4 linked regions of the Homo sapiens genome follow. The protein of the gene in region 1 interacts with the protein of each later gene in a biochemical or structural test. Each region holds a gene or a part of one and is shown in the gene's direction. Other genes may lie near its edges.

What was found.
Region 2: the proteins of OTUB2 (region 1) and PKM form a complex in vitro, tested with the Homo sapiens proteins (one study listed by BioGRID).
Region 3: the proteins of OTUB2 (region 1) and TRPV4 interact in a test that uses a peptide from one of them, tested with the Homo sapiens proteins (one study listed by BioGRID).
Region 4: of the proteins of OTUB2 (region 1) and GLI2, one has a biochemical effect on the other in vitro, tested with the Homo sapiens proteins (one study listed by BioGRID).

Annotation. Positions count from the first base shown.
Region 1 is NC_000014.9:94,029,340-94,036,339, forward strand, and holds part of OTUB2 (ubiquitin thioesterase OTUB2), read left to right. Parts: intron 1-7,000. UniProt on the Homo sapiens protein: Hydrolase that can remove conjugated ubiquitin from proteins in vitro and may therefore play an important regulatory role at the level of protein turnover by preventing degradation.
Region 2 is NC_000015.10:72,221,190-72,228,222, reverse strand, and holds part of PKM (pyruvate kinase PKM), read left to right. Parts: intron 1-5,651; exon of another isoform or gene 5,652-5,669; coding exon of another isoform or gene 5,670-5,773; intron 5,774-6,938; coding exon of another isoform or gene 6,939-7,033. UniProt on the Homo sapiens protein: Catalyzes the final rate-limiting step of glycolysis by mediating the transfer of a phosphoryl group from phosphoenolpyruvate (PEP) to ADP, generating ATP.
Region 3 is NC_000012.12:109,788,399-109,795,431, reverse strand, and holds part of TRPV4 (transient receptor potential cation channel subfamily V member 4), read left to right. Parts: intron 1-944; coding exon 945-1,103; intron 1,104-1,409; coding exon 1,410-1,502; intron 1,503-1,831; coding exon 1,832-1,905; intron 1,906-2,614; coding exon 2,615-2,780; intron 2,781-3,002; coding exon 3,003-3,069; intron 3,070-6,689; coding exon of another isoform or gene 6,690-6,715; coding exon 6,716-7,032; intron 7,033-7,033. UniProt on the Homo sapiens protein: Non-selective calcium permeant cation channel involved in osmotic sensitivity and mechanosensitivity. Activation by exposure to hypotonicity within the physiological range exhibits an outward rectification.
Region 4 is NC_000002.12:120,738,840-120,745,872, forward strand, and holds part of GLI2 (zinc finger protein GLI2), read left to right. Parts: intron 1-7,033. UniProt on the Homo sapiens protein: Functions as a transcription regulator in the hedgehog (Hh) pathway. Functions as a transcriptional activator. May also function as transcriptional repressor. Requires STK36 for full transcriptional activator activity.

The DNA of each region.
Region 1 (7,000 bases):
TGGATTCTTACAGTGCTGGAGGCTGGAAGCTCCAGATCAAGGTGTCAGCAGGGCCATGCTCCCTCTGAAGGCGCTAGGGAAGGTTCTGTTCCAGGCCTCCCTCCAAGCTTCTGGTAGCTCCTTGGCTTGTGGTTGCAGAACTTTGATCTTCACGTGGTGTTCTTCCTGTATGCCGGTCTGTGTCCTAATTTCCTCTTTTTATAAGGACACCAGTCGTATTGAATTAGAGGCCCACCCTACTCCAGTATGACCTCATCTCAGCTAATTACATCTGCAATGACCCTATTTCCAAATAAGATCCCATTCTAAGGTACCAAGGATTAGGTATTCAACATATGAATTTTGGTGGGGGGACACAGTTCAACCCATAACACTCCGTATACATTTCTGGAGCATGGCTGTGTGCCAGGCACTGAGGAGCCAGCACTGACAGGCAGACAAAGTCCCTGCCCCCATGGAATTGGCATTCCAGTGGAGGGAGCCGGGCAGCATGCGGGTAAACAGGCGAGCCTATGAGATCATGCCATGAAGAAATAAAGGTGAGAGGGATGGGGTGGGGCATGGGAAGGCCTCTCTGAGGAGGTGATGCCACCTGCATCTTGGGAAAGGCAGAGGAAGAATCCAGGTCAAAGGAGCAGCCGTGCAAAGGCCCTGGGGTGAGAGTGTGTCTTGTGAAGGAACACAGAGAGGGCCACATGGGGTCAGACATGGGAGGTCGTTGTCAAAAGATTGAGTCTTGGCCTAAGTGAGGGAGTCCACTGGAGGGCATGGGGGAAGGGCGTGCCCTTGCTGGTTAAGCAGCTTGTATTGGCTGCTTGTGGAGAATGGGCTGGGATGGGGGCAGGAGTGGAAACCAGGAGGTCCTTGGGCAGATGTTGGTGCAGCCTCCCTGGGGGGAGATGATGGCAGCTTGGACCAATGGGGAGGTCGGGGAGAGAGGAGTGGAGAAGCACTTCTGGGTCTTGGCATCAGCTCTGCTTGGATGGGGAGCTGGAGAAGCCTGTCGGGGGTGGGGGGCGAGGTGGGCAGGAGAGCAGTCAGGGACACGCTAATTCAGTAATGTTCTCAGACTTCTGAGCAGGAGTGGCTGTGGAGTCAGAGCTCTAGGGAGAGGTCAGGCCCGGAGAGGAAGATCTGAGGGCCTGTTGGGAGGATGCTGTATGAGTCTAGGCATAAGATAAGAGGGAAGGCCCGGGCCCAGGTCAGGGTCTCTGCAAAGCCAGCTAATAACTGACCCGGGGGGGAAGCCTCAGTGCAGGGTCTTGTCACTTTTCTTAGTGGAGCAGCAGAGAAGGGACATGTAGCAGGCTGAACAATGGCCCCAATGATGTCCACGTCCTAATCCCCACAACCTGTGACTATGTTACCGTGGCGAGAGGGACTTGGCAGGTGGGATTCCGTTAAGGATACTGAGTTATCCAGGTAGGCGCGATGACGTAATCACAAGTGTCCTTATGAGAGCAAGGCAGAGTGATGGGGAGGGTGGGGGCCGGTGTGTAAGCCGGGAAACCCGGGAGCCTCTAGAAACGGAAGACAAGAAAATAGATTCTCCTCTAGAGCCCACAGAAGGAACACCACTCTGTCGCCATCTTGCTTTAGGCCAGCAACACTCCTTTCGGACTTGTGGCCTCCAGCACTGTCAGATCGCACATTTGTGTTGTTTTGAGACACTAAGTTTGTGCTCCTTTGTTACAGCAGCCACAGGAAACTCAGGGCACTCGGCTGCCCCCAAATCCATGGCTTCCAAACGATTATCATCGCTCACCTCATCAATACAAAAACTCTGAGGCCAGGCACTCATACCTGTAATCCCAGCATTTTGGGAGGCCAAGGTGGGAGGATTGCTTGAGCCCAGGAGTTTGAGACCAGCCTGGGCAACACAGTGAGATCCCATCTCAGAAAAAAAAAAAAAAGAAAAAGAAAACAATGTTGAGCACTGCATGCATACATATGTCACATATCATACCCCTGAGTACACATCTGAAGGGATATTTCCTTCCAGCCCCTGGAGCAGTCCATAGTGCTGGGCCCATGGCTGCGGGCTGCTTGAGGAGTCCTTAGGTAATGTGGGCAGGTTTCAGGTACATACAGAGGCTTGGGAGGGAAAACCAGAAGACAGTGGGGACTCGTACTTTCCCTAAATTTGGAGGTGGGGCTCGGTACATGGATTAGGGATGGGGTATCAGGGGCAACCTCTCCAGCGTCATGGTGGGAGTTTTATACCCTGGCTCTTTAATCTCAGCTGGCGTTCCAGGGATGTAGGAGGAAGGACCAGCAGACAGCTGTAGTGCTGGCTCCCACCAAAGACTCAAAGCCAGTCTGAACACAAAGCCCACGTCCTTGCGCTTTCTGCTAGTTCCCAGGGTTACTGGGGAAAAGCAGTGATTGAAGAACATCCTTTTCTCACTTTGAAATATATTCCTCCACGCAAGCTGCTAAATCTGTTTCCAAGCCACAGTGCTATCTGACTTAATTAATTAGCATCTATTTGCAAACCAGCAATTAAAGGGCTAAAGTCCTTTTAGGTGGCCTAATTAGGTCTGACAGGACATTGTCAGATGTGGCCTGTCCTTTCTCCATAACATCCTAGAAATTTTCAGCCATGGTTTTAAAAGCAATCACGAATGAGAGTCAGCCAGGTCAAGCATCATGCCTGATTTATGGGCTAGTAAATTGAGGGTGTGCCTGGGGTTCTTCCGGGAGCTTGAGTCTCTGGTCTTGCCAGGGGTGTGGCCAGAGCCCTGCTAGTGGGGAGTGGCAGGGGACCAACTTCGGCGGACTTGGGTCATTCTGGAGGTGCCAGGTGGGGACTTGAAGGGCCAAAGCGAGAATCCCCTTGTCCCCAGGTCCCCCAATAATTACATCTGGGACCACTGGTGCGCTGGAGCTAGCCCAAGGTTCCATCACCTGCAGATGGAGGTAGCCCACCTGCGAGACATTTGTAAGCAGGGGTAGCTCTTAAATAGTGTGGAGTAAAGGGAAAAAAATATCCAGAATATCTATAGAATAGTATTATGCAAACTTAAAATGCATGCATACTTACAAGTCTGTATTTTTTAAAAAGACAAATGCATTTCATTTATAAGAGGTACCTAGAGTAGTCAAATTCATTAGAGACAGAAAAGTAGAAAGGTGGTCGCCAGAGACTGGGGGCAAGGGGATGGGGAGTTAGTGTTTAATGAGTAGAGATTCATCATAAGTACACGGAAGAAAAAAAATGGGTATGGGAGTTTCAGTTTGGGATGATTAAAAGCTTTGGGATGGGTGGGGGCGAGGGTTGCACTGTTGTGTGAATGTACTTAAGGCCACTGAACTGTGTACTTAAAAGTGGTTAAAATAATAAATTTCAGGTTATGTATGTTTTACCATAATTATAATAAAAAACAAATATATCTAGAAAGACATGCCATAGAGACTACCCATAGGGGCATGGGGGCATGGAGGAATGGAAATAGGGATCAGGGACAAAGGAGAACAAAACCTGAAAAAATTCCTTCCTGAGGCTGATGCCCACAGTGTGTCCTGAAGGTGTGGTGAGCTCAGCTCTTAGCAGATGGGAGGGCTCCGAACTGCTATGTAGTATTTTCTTCTTTTTGGAAATGAAGTCTGTTGCCCAGGCTGGAGTGCAGTGGTGCGGTCACGGCTCACTGCAACCTCTGCTGCCTGGGTTCAAGTGAGTCTCCTGCCTTGGCCTCCCAAGTAGCTGGGACTACAGGTGCCCACCACCACACCCGGCTCATTTTTGTATTTTTAGTGGAGACGGAGTTTTGCCATGTTGGCCAGGATGGTCTTGAACTCCTGACCTCGTGATCCGCCCGCCTCAGCCTCCCAAAGTGCTAGGATTACAGAGGTGAGCCACCGAGCCCGGCCCTATGTAATATTTTTCCTTAACTTGGCTCTTTTAAAGAGCTTAAGTAGATTTGTCAAAAATGCAAATTTTATGTTAATAGAGCAAGTGGAAACCTAACTTGACTTTCCTGGCATAGGTGCCACCCCCGTTCCTAATCCACCTTTAAATATTCCTCATTTTAACTGTTGATGGCAGTTTTCTGCATTGAAGTACTTATTTCTGCATGTTGAAGATTAATTCCTTAAATCCATTCCACTCCTCCATTGATTACCTCCTCAGACACCCTGCAGAGGAAATGTAGCTGATTTTGTGTCCTCCTTCTGCCATTTTGGTTTTGGTTTCGGGCAGTCCAAGCACAAGCAGTGTTAACTATAGTTGTTCTACTTTTTGATCTATGATTTAAAAAGACCCAAGCCATCATTTTAAGTCAGCTGTCTGTATAAACAACAAGGCTTTTATACAGTATAAACAAATTGTTAGATAAATAACGGGACTTTGGAATGAAGTCAGAGGGTGCGTGAGTGGGAACGAATTGGGCAGAGCAGGTGCGCTTGTTTTTCAGTATTACCTGTTTGTCCTCTTACCATCCACACAAGGCAGCAGAGGGAGAGCTTTCATTCTGAAATGTATAGAATCCTATGAATATTTGCTGTATTAGCACGCAGTATGAGGGCCAAATTAATTGTACAACTAGCAATTGTTATTATGCTAGTAATGTCAATCTTTCATGATTTAGAATAGACCAAAACATGTTAACTTTTTATAAATTTGCCTTTGAAGTCAATAAATCTGGCTTGGTTTAAGTTAAAAGAAAAAACACAAATGAAAATGGAATGATTTTAAGCTGTAAGTCAGAGGCCTGCCCACTCTTGAGAAGAGAGACTAGCAAAGTAGAAAGGAGTTCAAGGTATGCTAGAGACTGTCTTTCTCCTTGATGCGATCAGAAGGCTTGAAGGAAGTGGAACGGCAAATCACTTTCCTTCCAGATATCACTGATGTATTTTACCACCGTGTCTGGATATTGCCTGTAAATCGTGTCCTGTTCCACCTGTGATGAGCACGTCTTGGGCTAGAAAATGCTGTTGTGGACACTGAGCCCCCAGGATCAGGAGCTGGATGGAGAACTTTCCTGGGTGAGGCCTCAGGGGCAGGAGGTGGGGACCTGGCCTGTTGATAAGAAGGCCCTAGGCTGCCCTGTGTGGAATGTTCCTTTGTGTTTAGCAGCCTTGGTCCCTCAAGACCTCTGTGCTCTGCCTGCCTAGCAGTTTGGCATGGTAGAATTTCCATGGGCTTCAGAGTCAGATAGATCTGCCTAAAATTACTTCTTAGCACAGGGCACCTGACCTTGTCAGTAGAATGGGTATAATACCCATCTCAGGAGGTGGTCTTGAGGATTAAGTGAGATAATGGGGACGTGTCAGCCTCTCTCCCTGAGCCTAGCACATAGTATTTGCACAATAATGGCACCTGTTATCACTTCAGACCTCTTGGGCCTAGGGTAGCAGATTGCCAGATCATCTTCCATGTGTTGACTTTCAGCCTCACGCTCGCAGGATGGCTGCTGTGGACATTGCATCTGCATTGACGGTGGGAAGGAGTAGAACGTTCCATCTCTGTTCCTTTTATCCAAAACCAAAAGCTTCCCCAGAAGTCCCCAGCAGACTTTTCATGGGTCCAGCTGGCCAACCCCAGCTACCTGGCTGCCCATAGCTGCAAGGGAGGCTAGGAAAATGGGAAAGAGGTAGGATTGTTGTGACCTACCCAGTCATTTTTCATCATGTTGTGGGATTCCATTAGTGAGGAGGAAATGGGTCACAGCTGATGAGACAGAAGCCCTTGGCACCTGCCCCCAAGTGTTGTCTGATTCCTCCTGATGGCTTTCCTGTTGCTTTGCCAGCCCACGCTATGATGTCAGGGCAGAAGGAAGGAAGGAGCCTGGGGCTGGATTAATTTCGCAAAGAAGGGTCGGTACAGAGTGGAAGCTTCTGGAAGCAAAATCCAGAATCCCTTCTTCCCACCCCCCAAGTGTTTGCATGCCCTGTTTCTTCTTTCCTCTTTTGGAAACATTCTTCATCCAGTTCTTTTTTTTTTCTTTTCTTTTTTTTTTTTTTTTTTTTTGAGACAGAGTCTCGCTCTGTCACCCAGGCTGGAGTGCAGTGGTGCAATCTTGGCTCACTACAACCTCTGCCTCCCCGGTTTAAGAAATTCTCTACCTCAGCCTCCTGAGTAGCTGGGATTACGGGCATGTGCCACCATGCCCAGCTAATTTTTTTGTATTTTTAGTAGAGACGAGGTTTCGCCATCTTGGACAGGCTGGTCTTGAACTCCCAACCTCGTGATCCACCTGCCTTGGCCTCCCAAAGTGCTGGTATTACAAGCATGAGCCACCGTGCCTGGCCCATCCAGTTCTTTAGGACAATGAATTCATCCTCTATTCTTAAGCTATCTTCTGGGAAGTTGCCCTGAATCCCCCATGTCGGGGGGAGATCATGTTTGGTGCCACCAGAAAGGGCGAAACAGAATAAAGTGTAAGTTCAAGGGAGAGCACAAGCCTGACTCAGATGAGGTGGGGAGATCAGGGAGGCTTCATGGAGGAGGTAGCTTTTATTCATTTGTTTGAAAAATATCTCACCCCCTTCTCCGTGCCAGGCCCTGGGTGAATGGAAGATGGCAGACAGTATGACAAGCTGTCATTCCAGGCCCCCCAAAAACACCCCTGCCCAGTCCCAGCTTCTCTCCTGACCTGATACTGGACACAGGATCAGGGCCAGATGGAAGTTTGCCATCTGTCCCATGTGGAGACAGAAGCAACAAAAGTCATTTAGGCCTCATTATCTAATCTCATGGCCCAGCTTTCTGCTTCTGTGGGCTGAGCTTTGGAAAAAGCTAATCATCAAAAATCCGGATGTATTTCTTCAGGTGGAGAAAGGGGTTTGTAGCATCAGAGGGCTCCTCTCTGAGCAGGATGGTATTGGGTTGAGATCATTATCTAGTCAGTGATGAGGCTGAGAGGCTACCAGGGAAGGCCACTGTGGCCGGTGTGACATGAAAAAGGCCAGTTACAACTGGGTGTCAACAATGATGGTGATAAATGAATGGAAAACTAGATTACTATTTACAAAAATCCCAATTAACAGTGACCATCCACAG
Region 2 (7,033 bases), on another chromosome or scaffold:
TGGGACTTGATTAATGATGACTTAAAGAAGGTTCTTGAACTCATTTCTCAGTTACTGACTTGAGCCAAAATGTATGGATGTTGGTCTCCTGTCTAGCACAACTGCTTTCATTTTAAGCATTGCATTAGAAATAATGTTGTATTCATATTTTAGCAAAGAGCATCATTAGCTCTTTAAGAACCGTACCCCCAGTGACTTAGCAAATTTGGTGGCGGTGACTCTAAACAGCTAGCACTTTATGGGAGTTGCTTCTGTGCCTTGAATGTTGTGACACTGATGTGGGGTCACAGGAAAAACCATTTTATTTCCTAAAGCTGTTTATTTCTTAATATTGAGGCAATGGAAGAAATGAGGAAACGGCCGTGGGCAGGAAGGTAGAAGAAAATGCAGCACTTACATTACAAACTCACTTTACTTGGGTTTTAGTTTATTTTGCTTCAGTTTTTTGTTTTTTTTTTTTTTTTTTTTTTTTTTTTTTGAGATAGTTTTGCTCTTGTTGCCCAGTCTGGAGTGCAATGGTGTGATCTCGGCTCACTGCAACCTCCACCTCCTGGGTTCAAGCAATTCTCCTGCCTCAGCCTCCCGAAGTAGCTGGAATTACAGGCACTTGCACCACGCCCAGCTAATATTTTTGTATTTTTAGTAGAGATGGGGTTTCACCATGTTGGCCAGGCTGGTCTTGAACTCCTGACTTAGGTGATCCACCGGCCTCGGCCTCCCAAAGTGCCGGGATTACGGGCGTGAGCCACTGCACCTGGCCTGCTTCAGCTTTTATGAAGGCAAGTCAGGATGTGTTATCTTGGCCAAGAGCTAAGACTGAGACCGGAGTAGAGGAAAATGACTCATTTGACATTACCCTTCTTTCTGAATCACTCCAAAAGTCCACAGTCAAATCTCAATTAGCTGGTATAACACAAGAATGCGTTGACCCTGTGAGCAGAGTTTTATTGCATCTTCAAGGGTCTTCGTGAGATTGGTTTATTTGGTATGAGGTCTTAAGGATTTTAAGTTGTCCCTTTAAGCATCAGTTCTGATACAGATGGGAATAGAGCTAAACAACCAGATATATGAAGACCATTTTTGATACCACCATACTTGCGGGGAGCTTGCATTTTTTTACCAAGGGGCAGACTGGATAATTGAGTAATTTAAATACTTGGGACTTTGTTAAAGAAGCTGTTGGGGGAAGGTGAGCCTGGGTGAGTGGTGGAGGGTGATGTGCAGCATCTGCTGGGCCTTCCTGCCTCTTGGTATGACTGCTCAGCTCAGGAGTTGGGTGCTTTAGGGCCCCTACCATGCAGTGCGGTGAAGCCCCGCCCCTGCAGTGGTTTGTGCTTGTCTGCACGTAGGAGGGAACAAGCCGGCTGCAGTACCTTCGGTGGCCTCTGAGACTCACCTCCCCCACTTCTGTCCATAGACAAAGCTCCTGGGGAGCCCTAAGCCTCTTTCCTCATGCCAGCAAGCAGTCTTGGAAGCAGGCTGGGGCTGCAGTGGGAGAGATGCCAAGACCAGTTATTCAAGGGCAGTGAGGTTGCCAGTCCTAGCATTTCACACTGTGGACCAGCACAGCTGCTGGCTGAATACTGCAGTCAAGATTCTCTGAAGGGAGTCCTATCCCTTCCAAACATCTTCAGTTTACTTGCAGATAATGTTTCTTCATTTTTTATTTTATTTTATTTTATTTTATTTTTTTGAGACGGAGTCTCGCACCATGACCCAGGCTGGAGTGCAGTGGTGCAATCTCAGCTCACTGCAAGCTCCGCCTCCCGGGTTCATGCCATTCTCCTGCCTCAGCCTCCTGAGTAGCTGGGACTACAGGCAACCGCAACCACGCCTGGCTGATTTTTTTTGTATTTTTTAGTAGAGACGGGGTTTCACTGTGTTAGCCAGGATGGTCTCAGTCTGCTGACCTCGTGATCCACCTGTCTTGGCCTCCCAAAGTGCTGGGATTACAGGCATCAGCCACCGCGCCTGGCCATGTTTCTTCAATTTTAAACAACTGATATCTCCCTTGGCCATGAACGAAAAAGAACTGCCCATCAGTGGAGTCAGTCAGGGCACATAAGACACACTGTGTCCACCATGCCATTTCAGAGGAGATTTGATTGAGTTAAGCAGGGAAATAGAGATGTTGTAAACGTTGAAACTATCTGGGTATCCCTCTTTGGTTATTAACATTAGATGAGCAGAAAAACAAATGTCACCGATGGGCAAACATTTAAAAAGTCTGGCAGTACCAAGTGTGGAAAAAGGTGTGGAAGGCAGCAACTCAGCGTTCATTGATATAGCCACTTTGGAGAGCAATTCAGCCTTATTTAGTAAAAATAGAAATAAACATACTCCATGACCTAAGACTTCAATTTCTGGATATATAGAAACTCACACAGTACAGGGAGACATGTACTACAAGAGTATTGATTAATAGAAGAAACTTAGTTTAACGGGGAGGGAGAGTGGCCACCAGTAAGACAGTCCATAAATAAAATGGTCTGTTGTACAGTGGACTAGTGTAACAGCTTAAATGAATTAGCTAGATCCATATACCCACTGGATGGATCTTAAATGTGCTGCTGAGTGAAAAACAAGTTACTCAGTGATATATACAGTATACCACTTAGGGCATTAAGAAAACCACAATATTATAGGGTTCAGTATAGACATAGATACACTGTACATAGACTTCAGTGAACTGGAAGGATATAGAGTTCATGACAGTGATTGGGTGTCAAAATGCATGATGTGGCTGGGAGCAGTGGCTCACACCTGTAATCCCAGCACTTTGAGAGGCTGATGCAGGAGGATCACTTGAGGCCAGGAGGTCGAGACCAGCCTGGGCAACATCGCAAGATTCCCATCTCTATTTAAATAAATAAAATAGAAAAAAAAGTTTAAGATGGAGGTGGAAAGGGTTGGAGGAGCTTGGGGATGGAGAAAAAATGAACTGTATAAAATTAAAATTCTTGTTTTTGTTTTTAGAAAGTAAAGAGGGCCGGGCACAGTGGCTCATGCCTGTAATCCCAGCACTTTGGGAAGCTGAGGTGGGCGGATCACGAGGTCAGGAGATTGAGACCATCCTGGCTAACACGGTGAAACCCCGTCTGTACTAAAAATACAAAAAAAAAAAAAAAAAAAAATTAGCCGGGCCTGGTGGCGGGCGCCTGTAGTCCCAGCTACTCAGGAGGCTGAGGCAGGAGAATGGCCTGAACCTGGGAGGTGGAGCTTGCAGTGAGCTGAGATCGCGCCAGTGCACTCCAGCCTGGGCAACAGAGCGAGACTCCATCTCAAAAAAAAAAAAAAAAAGAAAAAAGAAATTAAAGAAAATACAGCTCAGCCTTTATTTGTGTTTTTTTTTTTTTCCTTTTTTTCTGAGACAGAGTTTTTCACTCTGTTGCCCGGGCTGGAGGGCAGTGGTGCGATCTCCGTTCACTGCAGCCTCCACTTCCTGGATTCAAGCAATTCTGTGTCTCAGCCACCCAAGTAGCTGGGATTACAGGTGCGCGCCTGGCTAATTTTTGTATGTTTAGTAGTGATGGTGTTTCACCATATTAGCCAGGCTGGTCTCGAACTCTTAGCCTCAAGTGATCTGCCCGCCTCAGCCTTTCAAACTGTTGGGATTACAGGCGTGAGCCAACACAGCCAGCCATGGCTCAGTGTTAATGGTCAGTTCTGGGTGGTAGAGAGGCAGATGTTAAAACTTTTTTTTCTTTAATTCGTAACATAGAAGCAAACCTATAAAGGCTGCCGTAGGAAGACCAGTCATAGTAACTAGTTCAGTGCTCTTGGAGAGTTGGCACTGCCTTTCCTCCTTTATCCCCCCGACTAGAATGCAGGGCAGCCCTTCCAGTAAATGTTGAGCCAGTGCCTCACTTTGCTGAGGCCATCACCCACCTTAGTTGCACTTAAGAGGACCCTAAATCAGGGTCCCAGGTCCCTTGCTGATTTTAGAGTGTGGATATCATACCCAGAAACACCGCCCTACTTTTAATCCTAGTAAGGAGGCACCATGTCCCAGGACAACTAATGCTTCCCCCAAACCACCTCCTTCAGGCTGAAACCAGTTCTCTGCACTGAGCAGCTGGGATGGAACCAGGAAATCCTCGGCATCTGAGGACATTGAGGGGTCTCTGACTTAGGGCTTCTTCACCTGAAGTTGAGTGGTCTTTGAGGGAAGTAGGCCCATTTAGCATCAGCTGCTCTTCCCTATTCCACACTCTAGTTGGAAATAGGACCTTAGGTTCCTGTTGACAAGTCATTTACTTTCAGCCCCGAAGAAATAAAAGAGCCAAGATTTTTTTTTTTTTTTTAAAGCCAGGGAATTTTACTAGAACCTACAAGTGGGCTCATTTTGTTCTGTGTAGCCTGGTAACACCATACTGCTTTCTGCTGTGGGGCCTCCTGGGGTTAAAGTGTGGGCTTAAGACCCAGGTCTCTTAGCTAGAAGATATCTTATCCTCTGTATCCTGCACCCATATGCAAATACATTATTGTCATTACCCTTAACTATAGATGAAGATGAACAGTGCCTATTCCAGACCTTACTAGGTTCTGCTGGCCCGTCACCCATTTTGATCATGTTGCTGGCCTAGTTTGATTAGGGCAAATCTTAGAAACTCCATTTCCATTGTTGAGGAAGAGAACTAGAGAGCAGGCTGACCTGAATGCCAGCGTATCATGATGCAGACTTTCTAACGGATGCAGGTGTTCGGAAGAGTTGTGGATCGAAACGCCTTCATGATGGCTTGGAGGTGTAGGTAGCAAACTGACGTCACAGGAAGGAACACAATCTTGGGTACCTACTGGCAACGTTGGAGGGAGAAAGTGAGCATCAGGTGCCATCATTTTATAGTTGATCTATGTGATGAGGTTGGTATCGGAGCATAATTGGTACAAAGGAAAAATGACTTAGGCAGATGCAGACTCACGGGCCAGGCTATTTTATTAGGGCAGAATGATTTGGTCCTTTGTGGAAGAATTGGTGGAGTGAAGCGTGAATCTTTCCCAGCACAACCCAACAACAGTCCTGGCCCTAAGAAGTGGAGCATGGGAGTTGGGTGTGGTTCGTGCCTGTAGTCCCAGCTACTTGGGATGCTGAGGCTGGAGGATCGTTTGAGGGTGCAGTGAGCTATAATATAATATAATCACACCACTGCACTCCAGCCTGGGTGACAGAGTGAAACCCTGTCTGAAAAAAAAAAAAAAGAAAAAAAAAAAGTTGGAGGGAGGAGTGTTGGGTATTTTTTATGATTTTTGTCTCCTGGTTTCTGAAGAATGGCCAAAAAATTGTGTCTGACACAAAGGAAACTAATATAAAAAGCCAGGAGCTGTCTGAGATGAGAAAGGAAAGGGAGAATAGGGCACTTGGAGCTGAGCTGTGATTGTGCCTGTTCCAACCTGTCACTCCAGACTAAGGCCTCTTAGAGATGGTGTCTCCTTTCTCACAGAGGAGACATGGCTCTGAGGAAGATCTTACTGCAGGGGCTCGGGCTCAAGAATAAGGCTCCTGGACCTGGGCATGGTGTGTGCTGCTATCAGTGGATACGCCAGGCTTCCACTGCTGGCTGGAGGTTGGCTCTGCATGTCTGTGCCTTCCTAGGAGGAGGATGCAATAGTGAGTCAGACTGGCATGGGTGGGGCCACATGTCCTGGCAGGCACTGTCCAGGCAGCTGGCATGAGGGAGAGGAGTCTTTCCCAGAAGTCCGCCCTGAGAAACCAAGGCTGGGCTGCTCTCCTGGAGCCAGGGGAGTCCAGTGAGTGTTTTACATACAACTCTAGGTACGTGGTTGGTGGGATGGGCAGTTTGTGCTGGGAAGAGGCTTGTGGAGGATTTTGGAGAAGGCAGGAGAGCTCTGGCCCTCCCTGCAAGGGAGGCTTCAGGTCAGAGCCTGAGGAAAGACCTGGGCATGAGATATGAGGTCTCTGGCTGGGTAGAGAGCATGAAGGACACATGAGATCTGGAGTCTGGATGAACTTGCTGACAAGCAAGCTTTTTTTGACTGCTAATGCGTAAATCCACTATAGAAATTTTCATTTGTCATTTTTGTACTTATTGGCAAAAAATTAGAGCTTATAGGCATCAGATTTAATTTGAGATAGTTGAAATAGGGTTTGTGTTTGAGGCCAATATAATTTTATCTGCTAATGGCATCTCGTGGACTTGGAGGCAGCCCTTCTGTACCAGAACATTGTCAAAAGCTTTTACTGTAAAGCTTGAGAACAAACTAGTTTGCTGGATTTGGGCATGTAACTAACAGGTTTGAGGCATGGGATTATCCTGTGGACTTTTTTTTTTTTTTTTTTGCTTTGAGGTTCTGAATGTATTAAGGTTGACCTTCTTAAGCCGTTGAAACTGTTCTGCAGTACATTTGTGATGTAGGGCCTAAGACTTGTATCGTTTTTTTTTTTTAATCACAACCCAGTGTACAGAACTTGAGACATGCGTCTTTTCTCTGCCACCTTTTAAAAGCAGATTATTCTTGAAGTGCATAGAGCAGCAATTGATTAATGGAATTGGTGTCTTCACATTTCATTTACTTCCTCCCAACAATTTTATAGGATGCATATAAATATTTCCAAAAGAGGTACACATAATTTCTTACTATAAAAGTATTTTTATATTTATATCAGTAAATTTGTTAATAAAGAGGATTTTTTTTTTTCTGTAATCCTACCACCCCAATGACGTCCTATTAAAATTTCAGTATATATCCTCCCAGGTCTTTTAGGTATGTTTAATTTGGTGTCCCTTCCCCGCTCCCAAAAGGGGAGGGACCAGGTTCTTGTATAGAATAGTGGAATGTTAGTAAATCACAGGTTTAAAGAGACATAACAGTGGAATCTCTAGAGCAGCTGTCACCTGGATACCTGGTTATTAAGGTAATTTTTCCATTACCCCAAAGAGCTTTAGTTACACTCAGCTTTTTCCTTAATCCTTGTGCAGCTCTCCAGGGCACACCGTATTCAGCTCTGAGCGGTCTTTGCTAGTGAGGCCAAGGAGCCACCCTGAGCCAAAAGGGGAGCATTATGTCACCGGAA
Region 3 (7,033 bases), on another chromosome or scaffold:
GCCCTGTGGCTTACTGGTCTGTGAGCTTGGCTTCCTTGCAAGACCTCATTTCCCTCATTTTTTGAATTAGTGACCATCTTGATTTAAATTAGTGGTGGCAGGAGGTTTAGCATCTCAGGTGCAAACTGATTGATTAGTAGTGTCTACCCAGGGAACTGTATGAATACAATTGTGCAGGGCTCAATTATTGATGTCTGCCCTGGGTTCAGAATTGGAGAATTGTGGTGAGTCAATCATTTATCATCTTTGGGCAAAATTTCTCAATCTTTCTCTCTGAATCAGAATTTCTGAGAGCGGAGGCCAGGATTTATACTTGCAGCAAGTTACATAAATTATTTTGCGGCCAGCAGCTTGGTACTATCCACAGATTGGAGTTTGGGAACCATGAGAATAAATGTCTTTTTTTCTTTTTTGAGATGGAGTCTCACTCTTGTTGCCCAGGCTGGAGTGCAGTAGTGCGATCTAGGCTCACTGCAATCTCCGCCTCCCAGGTTCAAGTGATTCTCCTGCCTCAGCCTTAGGAGTAGCTGGGATTACAGGTGTGCACCACCACGCCCGGCTAATTGTTGTGTTTTTAGTGGAGACAGGGTTTCACCACATTGGCCAGGCTGATCTTGAACTGCTGACCTTAGGTGATCCGCCTGTCTTGGCCTCCCAAAGTGCTAGGATTACAGGCATGAGCCACTGCGGCCGGCCTGAAAATAAATGTCTTTTAAGGGACTTTCCAGTTCCGAGTTCTGTGATGCTAGAATAGGGTGGAAAGGTACATTGAGGCAGAATTGGGCAGCTGAATCCATTCATGAATCCGTGAATGCAGCTGAGGAATGGATGGAAAGAGAAAGCGCTGTCCGGGTGGAGGGTGGGGGAAGGCACACCCGAGGCAGCCTGCCTGGACCCCCCACCCATCTCAGGAAGGCAGCCCCCGACCACCCTGCCTCTCTTAGAACCGCCACGAGATGCTGGCTGTGGAGCCCATCAATGAACTGCTGCGGGACAAGTGGCGCAAGTTCGGGGCCGTCTCCTTCTACATCAACGTGGTCTCCTACCTGTGTGCCATGGTCATCTTCACTCTCACCGCCTACTACCAGCCGCTGGAGGGCACAGTGAGTGCCCGGGGACCGGGCAGGGGCTGGGGCAGGCACTGGGCTGAGCCATGCAGGACTGGGGCACAACCTCATCCTTCTGGGTCCCCTGTAGGGGGACCCGGAGAAGGTTTAGGAACAGGTTGGGGAGGCGCCCTCCAGCATCCACGGGTGGCCCTGAGCTGGGAGGAGGAAGACTCAGGAGGAAGAGAGTGAAGGAGGAGGCTCCATGGGATGCCGATGTTTCGGGCCTGGGGGAACATCTGGATTGGGGGCCAGATGTTGGAGGGGCTGGGTGACGACCTGTGTGCCCTTGCTGCTCCCCAGCCGCCGTACCCTTACCGCACCACGGTGGACTACCTGCGGCTGGCTGGCGAGGTCATTACGCTCTTCACTGGGGTCCTGTTCTTCTTCACCAACGTAAGTGCCTGGCCCCCGTGCCCCCCACCCTGCCTGCCCTCCTCTTCTCTTCCTGCACCTCTTTTCTCTCCCTCTTTTTCTCTTCTCTCTCCTCCAAATGGTCCTTCTCCTTTCCTTCCTCCTTTTATTTTCCCATTTCTCTTCTACCTCCTCCAATCCCACGTTCTCCATCTCTGCTTTTTTCTCCTTTTCTAACAGGAAAGAGTCCTTTGTCTTTTCTCTGTACCAGCCTCTGCCTCCCTCTCTTCTATCCCTTTCTCTGTCTCCTCTCTCCTCCTCTCCTCTCCTGCTGGCCCCACCCCTTTCACGTGCCCCCTCCTGTCTTCCAGATCAAAGACTTGTTCATGAAGAAATGCCCTGGAGTGAATTCTCTCTTCATTGATGGCTCCTTCCAGCTGCTCTAGTGAGTAGAGGTCCCTGGGCCGGCAGCTTCTGGGTGAGGAAGGTGGGTTTGGGCTGCTAGGTCGTCCAGATTCAGGAGAGAGGTGATTCTGTTAGAAATGAATGCACCCAACCTGGGCAGCTCTAACCCAAAGTCAGGACAAAGCCACAAACAATAGGGTCTTCTGGTTCAAGAAAAATTCTGATTGCTAGGGAGTTATCATATACAACATGGATAGAAATAATTTTAACCTCTTATGCTGGTGAATGATTGCTAATGTCTGCCTGAAGTGCCATGTTAAGAATTTTGCACCTGTGTCTGTGTTTAGTGGGAAAGAGTTGGGATTGATTAATGATGTCTGCCTGGGACAGAGAATGAGAGAGTTACTGAGTGTGTGTTACCTCTTTCACATTTCCCTTAGAGTTGGAGAATGATGAAATTCACTTAGCCACAAAATCTCCACTGAACACCACTAAATCTTTCTTTAGCAATTCCAAGGGGCATCACTTCAGGATCCTGTGGGACCTCAGGATTAATTGCCAGCTAATTGAATGTTCTTGTTAACAGAATGCTGGGGAACCCTGCTAATCCACTTTGTTTCTTTTCTGGGGGTCTAGAAGGCATTGGGAAGTCCTGATACCCTGGAGGGCTTGGAGGCGTGTCTTCCCCTCCAGAGCCTCATTGTCCCCTCTCCCCTCTGGCCTCTCTTGTGGTCTCTGCTGCACTGCAGCTTCATCTACTCTGTCCTGGTGATCGTCTCAGCAGCCCTCTACCTGGCAGGGATCGAGGCCTACCTGGCCGTGATGGTCTTTGCCCTGGTCCTGGGCTGGATGAATGCCCTTTACTTCACCCGTGGGCTGAAGCTGACGGGGACCTATAGCATCATGATCCAGAAGGTACGGGCTGGGAGGACCCTCTGGACTCGTGTGTTCCTGGAGGGAGTCACACACACACCACATGCACACTTATGCACCTGCAGACCTGAGGATGCTGGGTACCGTGGGGGCAGGAGGCATGGTCTGGACACTGGGGTGGGACCAGGGTGGAGATGGAGGAATGGGGAAAGTGAGAAACCATGTGTCTCCTCTTTGCCTCCATAATCCCGCTGGGGTCTTTAGATTCTCTTCAAGGACCTTTTCCGATTCCTGCTCGTCTACTTGCTCTTCATGATCGGCTACGCTTCAGGTGAGCTCTGGGTGCTCAGGTGGTCCTGGCAGGGGTGGTGCAAGGACGGGAACAGTAGCCATGATGTATAGGGGACAATAGCAGCCTTGCTGAGTTCTTTTTTTTTTTTTTTTTTTTTTGAGGTGGAGTTTTGCTCCTGTTGCCCGGGCTGGAGTGCAATGGCACAATCTCAGCTCACTGTAACCTCCACCTCCCAGGTTCAAGTAATTCTGCCTCAGCCTCCCACGTAGTTGGGATTACGGGCTCCTGCCACCACGCCCCACTATTTTTTAATTTTTTTTTTTTTGTATTTTTAGTAGAGATGGGGTTTCACCATGTTGGCCATGCTGGTCTTGAACTCCTGACCTCAGGTGATCCACCCTCCTTGGCCTCCCAAAATGGTGGGATTACAGGTGTGAGCCAACGCGCCTGGCCACTGAGTTCTTATTTGTGTGCCAGGCACCAGACTAAGTACGTTTCCATCCTTGCCTCCCAACAAGCCTGTAAGCTAAGTGCCTTTATTATCCCCTATTATAGAAAAGGAAACTGAGGCTTAGGAGGGTTAAATAACTAGCACAAGTTCAAAAGCCAGTGAATGGTGGCCGGGCGCAGTGGCTCACATCTGTAATCCCAGCACTTCAGGAGGCTGAGGCGGGTAGATCACTTGAGGTCAGGAGTTTGAGACCAGCCTGGCCAACATGGCAAAACCCCGTCTCTACCAAAAAATACAAAAATTAGACAGGCATGGTGGCGCGCAACTATAGACCCAGCTACTCGGGAGGCTGAGGCACAAGAATCGCTTGAACCCAGGGGGTGGAGGTTGCAGTAAGCCAAGATGGCACCACTGCACTCCAGCCTGGGCAACACAGCGAGACTCTGTCTCAAAAAAAAAAAAAAAAAAAAAGCTGGTGAATGGCAAAACTGGAGTATTAGCTATTGCTACAAAGGAAGCCACCTAAAGTGGGGCTTAAAATAGCACCCACTTATTATTATTATTTTTTTTGTGGCAAGGTCTCACTCTGTCACCAAGGCTGGAGGGCAGTGGTGCTCTTGGCTCACTGCAATCTCTGCCTCCTGGGTTCAAGCGATTCTCTTGCCTCAGCCTCTCGAATAGCTGGGATTACAGGCGTGTGCCACCACGCATGGCTAAGTTTTATATTTTTGGTAGAGATGGGGTTTCACTATGTTGGCCAGGCTGGTCTCGAACTCCTGACCCCAAGTGATCCACCCACCTTGGCCTCCCAAAGTGCTGGGATTACAGGCGTGAGCCACTGTACCAGGCCAACTTACTATTGCTTATGAGTCAATGGGTCAGCTGGGTGGCTGTGCTGCCCTGGGCCAGGTTTGGCTGATCCCTACAGGCTCTTGTGCCTGTGGTCAGCTGGCAGGCTGGCTGCTGGCTGACTGGTCTAGCTAGTATGGACTTGGTTAGAGGGGGTTTGCTATCTATCTTCCACATGGTCACTCATTTCTGGACAGCTAGCTTGGGCTTGTCCACATGGTGGCCTTAGGGTTCCAAGAACATGAGCAGAAGTGTTCAAGGACACCTCCTGGCATGGCATCACTGCTGCCTTACTCTGTTGGCCAAAGCAAGTCACAAGGCCAGCCTCGATTCAAGGGATGGGGAAATAGACGCCACTTCTTTTTTTCCATTTTTTTTTTTTGGTGGAGGCAGGGTCTTGCTATGTTGCCCAGGCTGGTCTTGAACTCCTGGGCTCAAGCAGTCCTCCTGCCTCAGCCTCCCAAAGTGCAGGATTATAGGCGCGAGCCACTGCACCTGGCCTAGACTCCACTTCTTAGTGGGAGAAGCTGTAAAGCCACATTGAAGGAGGATGGATACATGGAAGGATAAAATTTAATAATTAAACTAGCAGCCCAGGTATTTTCTTAAAGCCCAACATCAGCTCCCTTGATATACCTTCTTCGTGATGTCATGATGCCACTAAGAAGCATTCTGGGACCTCAGTGGCATGGGTCATGGGAGAAGGACCAGGGACCAGGGCTGGAGAAACTGACCAAGTCCTTGGGCTGATCCCCGAGGTGTGGGTAATCTGACATCAATGCCCAGCATCCAAAGGGGAATGGCCAACTCAGGTTAGACCTGGACACATACACATCTGAGCAGGTTCATCTGGGGACGAGCCTGGCACAGGAATCTGACAAGGGTGATATTTTAACCCACGATAGTGGCCAAGTCTCTAGGTAGATTATTGGTGGGAAGTGGAATTGTAGTTTTCACTGGGGAGATAGGGACAGGGTACAGCTTTCCCTTCCCAGGGATCACACTGGACAAACTAGACAGTGTCAAGGGTTCAACAACAGTTTGGGATTCAGGTCAGGGATCTAGCCCTACTGCAGTCCTAGTTATTGAAACTAAGGAGAAACAAGGGTTAGAGTAGCAGCTTAGCAGTCAGCTTGGTTGCAGGTCTTCTCCTTATAGGATGCACTAGATCTCAATTCTGAGGCTGACATGACATAAACAGGACACACATGCTTCTGTTCCCACACTTTGGTGTCCATAGCAGACATCACTAATGGATCACAGAACAGTTTTTCCGGTGAGTCCAGACAAGGTCTCAGAATCCTTCTCAACACAGTGTTTCACCAGGTACTATACAACTGAAGAACATTAGCATATGAGTTGAAATCTGCATACTCTAATCCCTGGTTGCAGGCAGTATGACATTCTGTGCCCCACTGACTGATGGGACTGAGTCTTCTTCATGCTCCCCTCCCTGGCTGGTTTAGGGACAGGTTGTTGCTGCCAAACTGTGTTGAGAAGGAATCTGAAGCTCCACCTGGGCTTAGTAGGAAAGGAGAACCATGATGAGTTTGAGATGTCTAGAGCAGGAGAGGCCCCTTAGAGAACACGGCTTTGGGGACAGTCAGGACTGATGCCTGGTTTCAGCCCCCACTTTTCCTCTCTGGGTTGGGGTGGAGTGGGAAACTGTCAGAGAGAGAGTCTACCCCTGCGAATAGGGGCATTCCAGAGCCCCCAAGACCTCTAAGAATGGTAGGCCGCATTAGGATTTCCCAACACTATTGACATTTGAGACCAGATCATTCTTCGTGGCGGGGACCATCCTGTGCATTGTAGGGTGTCAGGCAGCACCCCTGGCCTCCACCCACCTGATGCCAGTAGCACCCCCACCCCCAGTTGTAACAACCAAATATGTCTCTAGACATTGTCAAATGTCCCCTGGTGGGAAAAACTGAGACCCTCCCTGGACTAGATCCTGAAAACCTTTTCCCTCCCGGTAGCAGGGAACCACCAGGTTGTGTAAGGAGGGGTGAACTGTCCCAGGTTGGAAACAGAGCAGGTCAAAACTCCTACGCTTATCAGTAGTGGGATTGAGCCTGTGAGTAGCCACTGCACTCCAGCCTGGGCAACATAGCAAGACCCCATCTCAGAAAGAAAGAGAGAGAGAGAGAGATAACCTCTTCCTTATCAGCAAGAGTTTATGGAAAGGCTTCAAAGGTTTTGGGATCAGGAGGACCTGGGTCTGGTGTGGCTTGGCTGATGTGTAGGGTGACATGGGTCAGCGTGTGGGCCAGCGTGCTCCGCTCACTAGGCCTCAGCTTTCTCCTCCAGCAAATGAGAATGACACCCTCCACCTCTCTGTGGGTGTGCTCACACTCAGTGAGTGCCACCCCTATCCTCCCACAGCCCTGGTCTCCCTCCTGAACCCGTGTGCCAACATGAAGGTGTGCAATGAGGACCAGACCAACTGCACAGTGCCCACTTACCCCTCGTGCCGTGACAGCGAGACCTTCAGCACCTTCCTCCTGGACCTGTTTAAGCTGACCATCGGCATGGGCGACCTGGAGATGCTGAGCAGCACCAAGTACCCCGTGGTCTTCATCATCCTGCTGGTGACCTACATCATCCTCACCTTTGTGCTGCTCCTCAACATGCTCATTGCCCTCATGGGCGAGACAGTGGGCCAGGTCTCCAAGGAGAGCAAGCACATCTGGAAGCTGCAGG
Region 4 (7,033 bases), on another chromosome or scaffold:
ATTCTGCTCTGGCCTTGAAGGGGACTCTTGACTCGTGGCTTCCTTGAAGCTTGTGTGGAGTTAGCGAGGCCCTTGTGGCCAGGCAGCCTTGGAGTGGAGTGCCACTTCACTCTCCCAGGGATGCTCTGGTCCACTGGTGGAGAGAGCACCGAATGCAGAGTCAATCCTTTGAGTTGCTTGGTCAGAAGAGGGGGCCGCAGGGCTTCTGGTCAGTGGCTCATTGCCTGGCTGCGGGGGTCTTGGGGGCTGTGTACTGTAGCTGGCTTGTTTGCACTGCAGACTGAAAAATACACAAATACTTCACGCTTTTTGTACTCCCACAAGTGCCCTGTACACAGTGCAGCCCCTGGGGCTGGATTAGCAAACCAGGGATTCAGCAGGCAGGCAGACAAAATTGGATATTTGCCTAATAAACACCCTTCTTCCATTGTCCCCCACCCCTGCCCCGGGGGTACTCCACGGGAAAACTTCACTCCACAGATGCCAGCAGTTCCCTTTAAATGGGAGTAGGAGGTTGTCATGTGCACTTTGAAAGCTTGTGTGACCCCCTCACACCCAGCTGGCTTGTTAAAGCCTAGAATCGGAGTCCTACATCCTTGTGTACTCTTTGGGTAGGGCAGCTGGCCTTTTCCTGGGGAAAGTGTGTTTAGCCCAGCTTCCTTTCATCTGCATGGCTCTTGCGGCAGGGAGGTGGAGCAAACCAGCCTTGCTTCTTGGAGGCTGTGGGGAGGAGAAAGGGGTTCTACCTGGGCCAGAGCCTGTTTCCTAGTGGACAAGGGGCAGCCAGGCCAGGTGGACCTCGCTGTGGACAGCTGCAGCTGTTCCCGCTGGGCCAGGGCCCTTTGAAAAGGAACCCGGGGGAGCACTTCCCCCCTTTCTTCTTTTCACTAAGTGTCAGAGGCATGGACAAGTGAAACACGTGAAGAATGCCAAAGAGAGAAACAGTGTTTTCAGATTCCAGAAAATTCAGAGGCAGAATAGGTGATTGTACCAACAACCAGAATGTACAGTGATTTCAGTTGCTCCTGAAATTGCTCCTGCACTTCTAAAGAAATCGGGGAGGAAAAACTGCTCTCTAATTGTTTCCTCAGGCTTGTTTAACAGATTTGAGAAAGGGTCATCCGACATTGATGTTTGAGAGTGTCCTTTGAAAAAGAGTGGCACCTTCAACACTTTTCTGGTTTTCAAATAAACACACAACACCGGATTCAACATTAATCATTTTCTCTGAAATTAATTTGAGGGTTTGCTGTGGAATATCAAGAATTAAAAAAAAAATCATTGATTATTATTTTTAGGTTTAGAGGATGACAAAAGCATCCTTAACCCACAAAACTGTATTTAAAACCTGGGAAAATGCACAGATGATAACGGTATACTTTCTGTGCATTTAATATCTTATTTTCCCCCAATTCTTTCATCAGCACAGTAATTCTCAATAATCCTGTTTGTGTTGTTTCTGGTTTCTTAAAAAACATACACATGGGGGAAAGTAACTCATTTAAGATGTGACCAAAGAGTACTTATTAAACTGTTTTGGGGATTTGGGTTTAAATTGAATAATGTTTTGTGTGTGTGCTTGCACATGTGTGTTGTTTAAAAAAAAAAAAACAGGTTGCTGGGAAGTGTGTTTTAACTGTGAGTGCCGGGTTTCAGCTATTAGCATAAGAAAAAAAGTTTTAGTGCGTTTGCCATTGTCTTGAATGAAGAGTTCAGCAAAGGGAAGGAAAGCCGCAAAAGGGTGATGGTCCATTGAGATTCTTCTGCAGCCCCGAGCTCGTCATCTGCCTCTGAAATCTGTGATCGGATATCACTTTTATCTCGCTTTTCCATTCTCTGGCCTTTTTCACACGTTCACTTTTGTCAAGGTTTATTGATTATGTTTTCTTCTCTACAAATCTGTGGAAAATTTAATGAACCAAAAACAGCAGTGAAATAAAGGGGACTTTTTATTCATTAGCACGGGATTGGGATTGATTCCCTCTTTGGGCAGCCGAGGGCCCCAGGCCTCCTGCAGGCAGCTAGAGGGAGGAGGGAGGGTGGCCCGGCTGCAGGCTGAGGCGGGGACTCCACAGGCCTGTGGCCTCCAGGCTGAGCAGCACGGGCGCAGCCCTGCACTCCTGTCCCAAGTGAACTCTGAAAGCTTGTCCGCGATGGCTGTGCCGGTTGAGCCTGTATGCAACCACGCCGCAGCCCTTACCCGCCATGTCCTCCTGGGTCCTGGCTCAGTGGGCTTGGGGGAGGTGGGGCGGGGGGTGTTGTTTGTATTTCCCAGACTTACAAACCATTTGAGTGCTGGGCCTTCCCTGGGACACAGTTAAGTATCTCCCTTCCTCCAGACCCAGCCCAAACCTGTAATTAAGCAAAGCCCCTGATGTGATTACGCTTTGCTGACTCGGCTGGGTTTGGAGCCATTCCCTCTAGGAAACAGGGTGAACTCTTGCTCTTCCCAGAGGTTTCCTGGGCAGCTTGTGGTGCACCTCTATTGTACACATGTCCGCCTGTCCCCCTCCTTTGGCTCTCTTCCTCTCCCTTCAGCTATCCGTCCGTCCTTTCTGTCTTTTTCTTTCTCCTTCCCCTTTCTCTCTCTTCTGTCCTGCCCCCACCCCCTCTTCTCTCTGGGTCTCTCCTTTCTCTCCCTCTCCGTTCTCTCTCCCCTTCTCCTTTCTTCTCTTTCCCTCCGTTTCCCCCTCCTCCGTTTCCTCCGCCTTCTCTCTCCCTCTCTTTTCTGTCTTTTCTCATCTTTTCCCATCTTTCCCTCCCGTTCCCTCCGCCTCCTCCCCGCCCCCGCCGTCTGGACCTTCCTCTCCCTCCGCGCCGGCTTTTCCGCCACGCGGAGCGCTGGCTGGCGAGGCCGCGTGTCCGAGCGGCGCCGACCGTGCCGCGGCCGGGGGACATTCCGTGCCCCGAGCGCCCCGGGCCCGCGGCTGCGGCCCTCCCACCTGCGCGCCGGCCTGGTTTGCAGCTCCCAAACAATGGCCACATTGTCGCAGCCGCACACCGGCCGCCGCCGGCGAGTGGCGGGAGGCCGGACTCTGCTCGTGGCGAGTCGGGAAGAAAGCCAACGGGCCAGGTCCCCACAGCCGCGCCCGGAGCGCGCGAGCGGCTCCCACCCGGGAAGGGCGCGGGTTCCGAGGGGCGCCCCGGGTCTTCCTCGACCCCGTTTCCCATTGGCCTGCCCTCTTGCCCGCTTCCCCAGGAGGGGCTTCCAGTTGCCTTTACAGCTGGCGAAGTGAATGAGAGCACTCCACGGGAGCCGGGAAGAGAGAGGCCCCGTGACCAAACTTTTGGTGGCGTCTGAAACTTTTTCTGTAAGGCATCTGCAGACAGTAATCACTAAGGCCGCCTTCTGCCCTTGTCCACTCCCGGCGACAGGAAAGGAAGGGCGGTCCTCTCTTCCATTCGTCTTGACCTGTAGGGATTCGAAACCTCTTAGCGCTCAGAAAAAAGATCTTTGAATGCCTGATGTTAAAAGAGCGTCCCTGGGTCCAAGATAGCCCCTTCAGCAGACGCTTAGCAATGCTTCTTTGTGTGCTGGACAATGCAGTAAGTCAGCCAGACTTTTGAGCCACATTTATAAGGAACTGTAAGGGCCGCTCAAGTACACTTGTGCTAAGTTGAATTGATTGAAATTTAATGGCGGTTAGTGGCGATGAATGGTAATGATTTTCCAGCGTATCTTTGGCATACTTGACATTAATAACTGGAGTGTGTGTGTACGCACGCCGAGAGCCCGCCACACACGTGAGGCCGTAGCATTATTCATTTTCCGAGGTGCCAGTCCTTTCTCTCCTCAAATCCTTTTCCATCTCACCATAATTCAGTTGTTAGGATGACTTTAAAAAAAAAGGAAAGAGGGAAAGAGAAAAATCTTTCTCCATTGAGCACGTACATCATGTCAACGTAATTTTGAGCTCATGATTTCTTTTCAATTCCTACATAAATCAGCTTCTAATATATAGAATGTGACGAATTTGTTTTAGCTGCCATCATGAATTAATGTTATGCAAATAGAAGCTGTGCAGGTGAAATGATTTACTTAATAATTTCAACTTCTAATATTTAAACTCATTCATTATGTTGGAGTTAAAAAAAGCAAGTCCATATTTTTAAACCTCAGATGGGGAGATTAGTATGCAAATATTTGCAGTGCAGCAACCCTTGATGACCAGAAAATAGCTCTTAATTTGTTGATTCTCTGGGAATCTGCAGCTCACCATACCAAGTGGCCTAAGGAGCAGGGGAAAGAAGACTTACCAAGTTTTATCTGGGGGAGGACACAAATGCATTTACATAATTCCATCGTGACCATCAATGTACCATATCCAGTGGGACTGAACTCTCTCTGCTTTGGGGACCAAGGAAGGCTTCCCATTTGAATTTGTCTTGAAGAATAACTGTAACTGCCAGGTAGAGAAGGGTAAAGGGCTCTGATGTGCCGCCTCCCCGCTCCCCTTCCTGCTTCTTTGTCCTTTGTCCTTTGCTAGTTAAGACCATCTTAACACTGTAATTCCAGGATTTGGGGAGGCTGAGGTGGGAGGATTGCTGGAGTTCAGGAGTTCGAGGCCAGCCTGGGCAACATAGCGATACCCTGTCTCTACAAAAAAATAAAAATAAAAAAAGAAATCATCTTAAGAGCCAGTCATTAAATACCGGCCTATGAAGGTGACCCTGGTGTAGAAAGTTGGGCCAGAGGACTACCCAGATAACTGTTAGGAAGACTTTCTTATATATACCATCCTTCCCGGCTGTTTCCCTCTGGAAGAAGCTAAGGAAGAGCACAAGAGTGATGGATGGCTGCAATATAAAGATAATTAGCCCGAACCCCTTGGAGTTATCCCCAGGGACTGGGAGACCCAGTCACTCAATAGCTGGGTGACCCTGTGCAAGTTGCTTCGCCTATCTCTGGGAAGGGGGCGGGGCTTGGTAGATGTCATCTCTCAGGTCCTCCCAGCTTCAAAACCCTCTGAGCTAGCACACCCTGCCCACTGGACAGCCATCTCTAAGAGTCAAGACAGCGGGTAGGGTGGGAAGATCAGAGTCTGGAGAAAGGGAAGGTCTTGGGTACCCCCTGGGGAGAGTTGGGTGCCTGTCAAGGAATATGTCCTGCCTCTCCTTGCTGGCCACTCTTCTTAGCCAGCCGCTGTGCTCAGGTACCTCTGGGATGTGGTCACAGGGTCAGTGTAAATGGGAGTGGCCTTGGGGACATTGGTAGAGAGCGGAAGCCTGTGATGGTCTTTTCAGACTTTCCTCGAGGCTGAAGATCAGTGAAGGAAGGGCTGACACATAAATTTGTCTTGGATCTCTGAAGATGATAAGGGTGGAGTTTTGACTTCACTTCTCAAAAAATTGAGGTCGTTGCAGTCTGATGACAGGTTGAAGGCACATCACTCAGACGTTTCTGCAGACAGCTGTGGGTTGTGCTGTCATGATACATTGTGTGTGTCCAGGCAGTGACAGTATATTTAGGGCTGGCCCTCGCTGTCTGTGGAGATCAAGGTGAGGGGACATCTCTGGTGCTCTTGGGCTTGAGAGAATGCATATGTTGCCTTGTTTATGTACTGAAAGAAAAATTGGACTCAGTAGCTACTCTGTTACTTCCATACTTTTCAGGTATGTGAATCAATAGTTGGAACAGGATTGTAGAGTTTGAATGTAATTCAGGTACATTCATCTACCGAAGATGTGGTACATAATATAGTAATTTACATACACAGTATAGTATGTTAGATTACCCTTCCTGCTGTTCAGTGTGAATGAGGGATGTGCGACATGTATATTTATGCTGATAGACATTTATATGGCTAAAACTTTAACTACCAGATTCCTTTAGAATTAGATTTTTGTTCTTCTCCTAAAATGTGCTTGTACCCAAGAACAAGAAATTAAGAGGCACATCTGAGAATAAGGCTGCAAAGGTCTCTAGGTGGGGTTCATGGGCCTCCTGGATGAGATTCAGGTGGGAAGCTTGTTAAATATTGCAGAATCTTAGGTTCCCCAGGGAGAACCCATTGAATGAGAATTCCTGCAGAGTGGGTCCAGGAATCTGCATTTTATCCAGGATTTTTAGGGTGGGGTGATGAGGAATAATGTCTTTTTACTATGATGTCCCTCAGATCTGGGACAGTCCAGGAATGGATTTTCAGCCAATTGCAGCACTTGCAGCTGCCTGGACAGCTGTTGCAGCAAGGAAACTAGCTGAAAACAGAGGTGCTTCTGCTCCAAAACAGCTCTTAGAAGTAGGCTCTAGAGCAGGGTCTCTCTTTCACAGGACAGTAGCTGAGACTATAAGGTGGCTCTGGTGGTTACTTGCTTTTACTGGCCCCCAAGAGAAACAAGAGAGTATATTAAGTTAACATGTTGGTTTATGTGCTGTAGGTTCTGTCCCAAGTGTCCCTGGGATGCCTCCTTTCTTTTTCCATGTAAGGAACTGCAGCGCCATCAGGATGCTTTGTGGCTGAAGTGGGACCAATTTGGCATTGGACAGTTTGAGTAGGTCTTTTGGAAGTTTGACCCACACTTAGGTTTGGTTGAAGGGCCTACCTTGTGGACACCTTTATGGTCCCTAAGAAAAGTAGGAAGGAGACAGATTGTCCAATAGGGGTGAAGTTGCAGAAGAGGATGCTGTGTGGTGGCGTCAGGCCTGGGAGCTGGAAGGAGCCTGCCCTGAGGGTGAGCAGAGCCCTCACTCAAGATTAGGGGCCTAGGAACAGACTTTTCCTTTCACTACTGTCCTGCAGGCCTTGGAGACCTGGGCTCTTCCACACCCGCAGCTGTGACCATGTGGGGTGGCTTCTGGGGCTTTGATTCATACAGTTTTGCACTGCAGACTTCATTTGCTTGATGCTAATGTTACAAGTGCACCTGGGCCAGGACTTCAAGAGTGCATGGAAGAACACACTGGAAACATTTGAAATTGTGATGTGGGTGGGTCCTCATCCACCCTGCAGCTGGTTCACCTGGTGGCCATGTGGTGGGATTTGCTGGTCTGAAGAGGCTCAGGATTCCTTCTGTCCACATTTTTGCAGTTCTT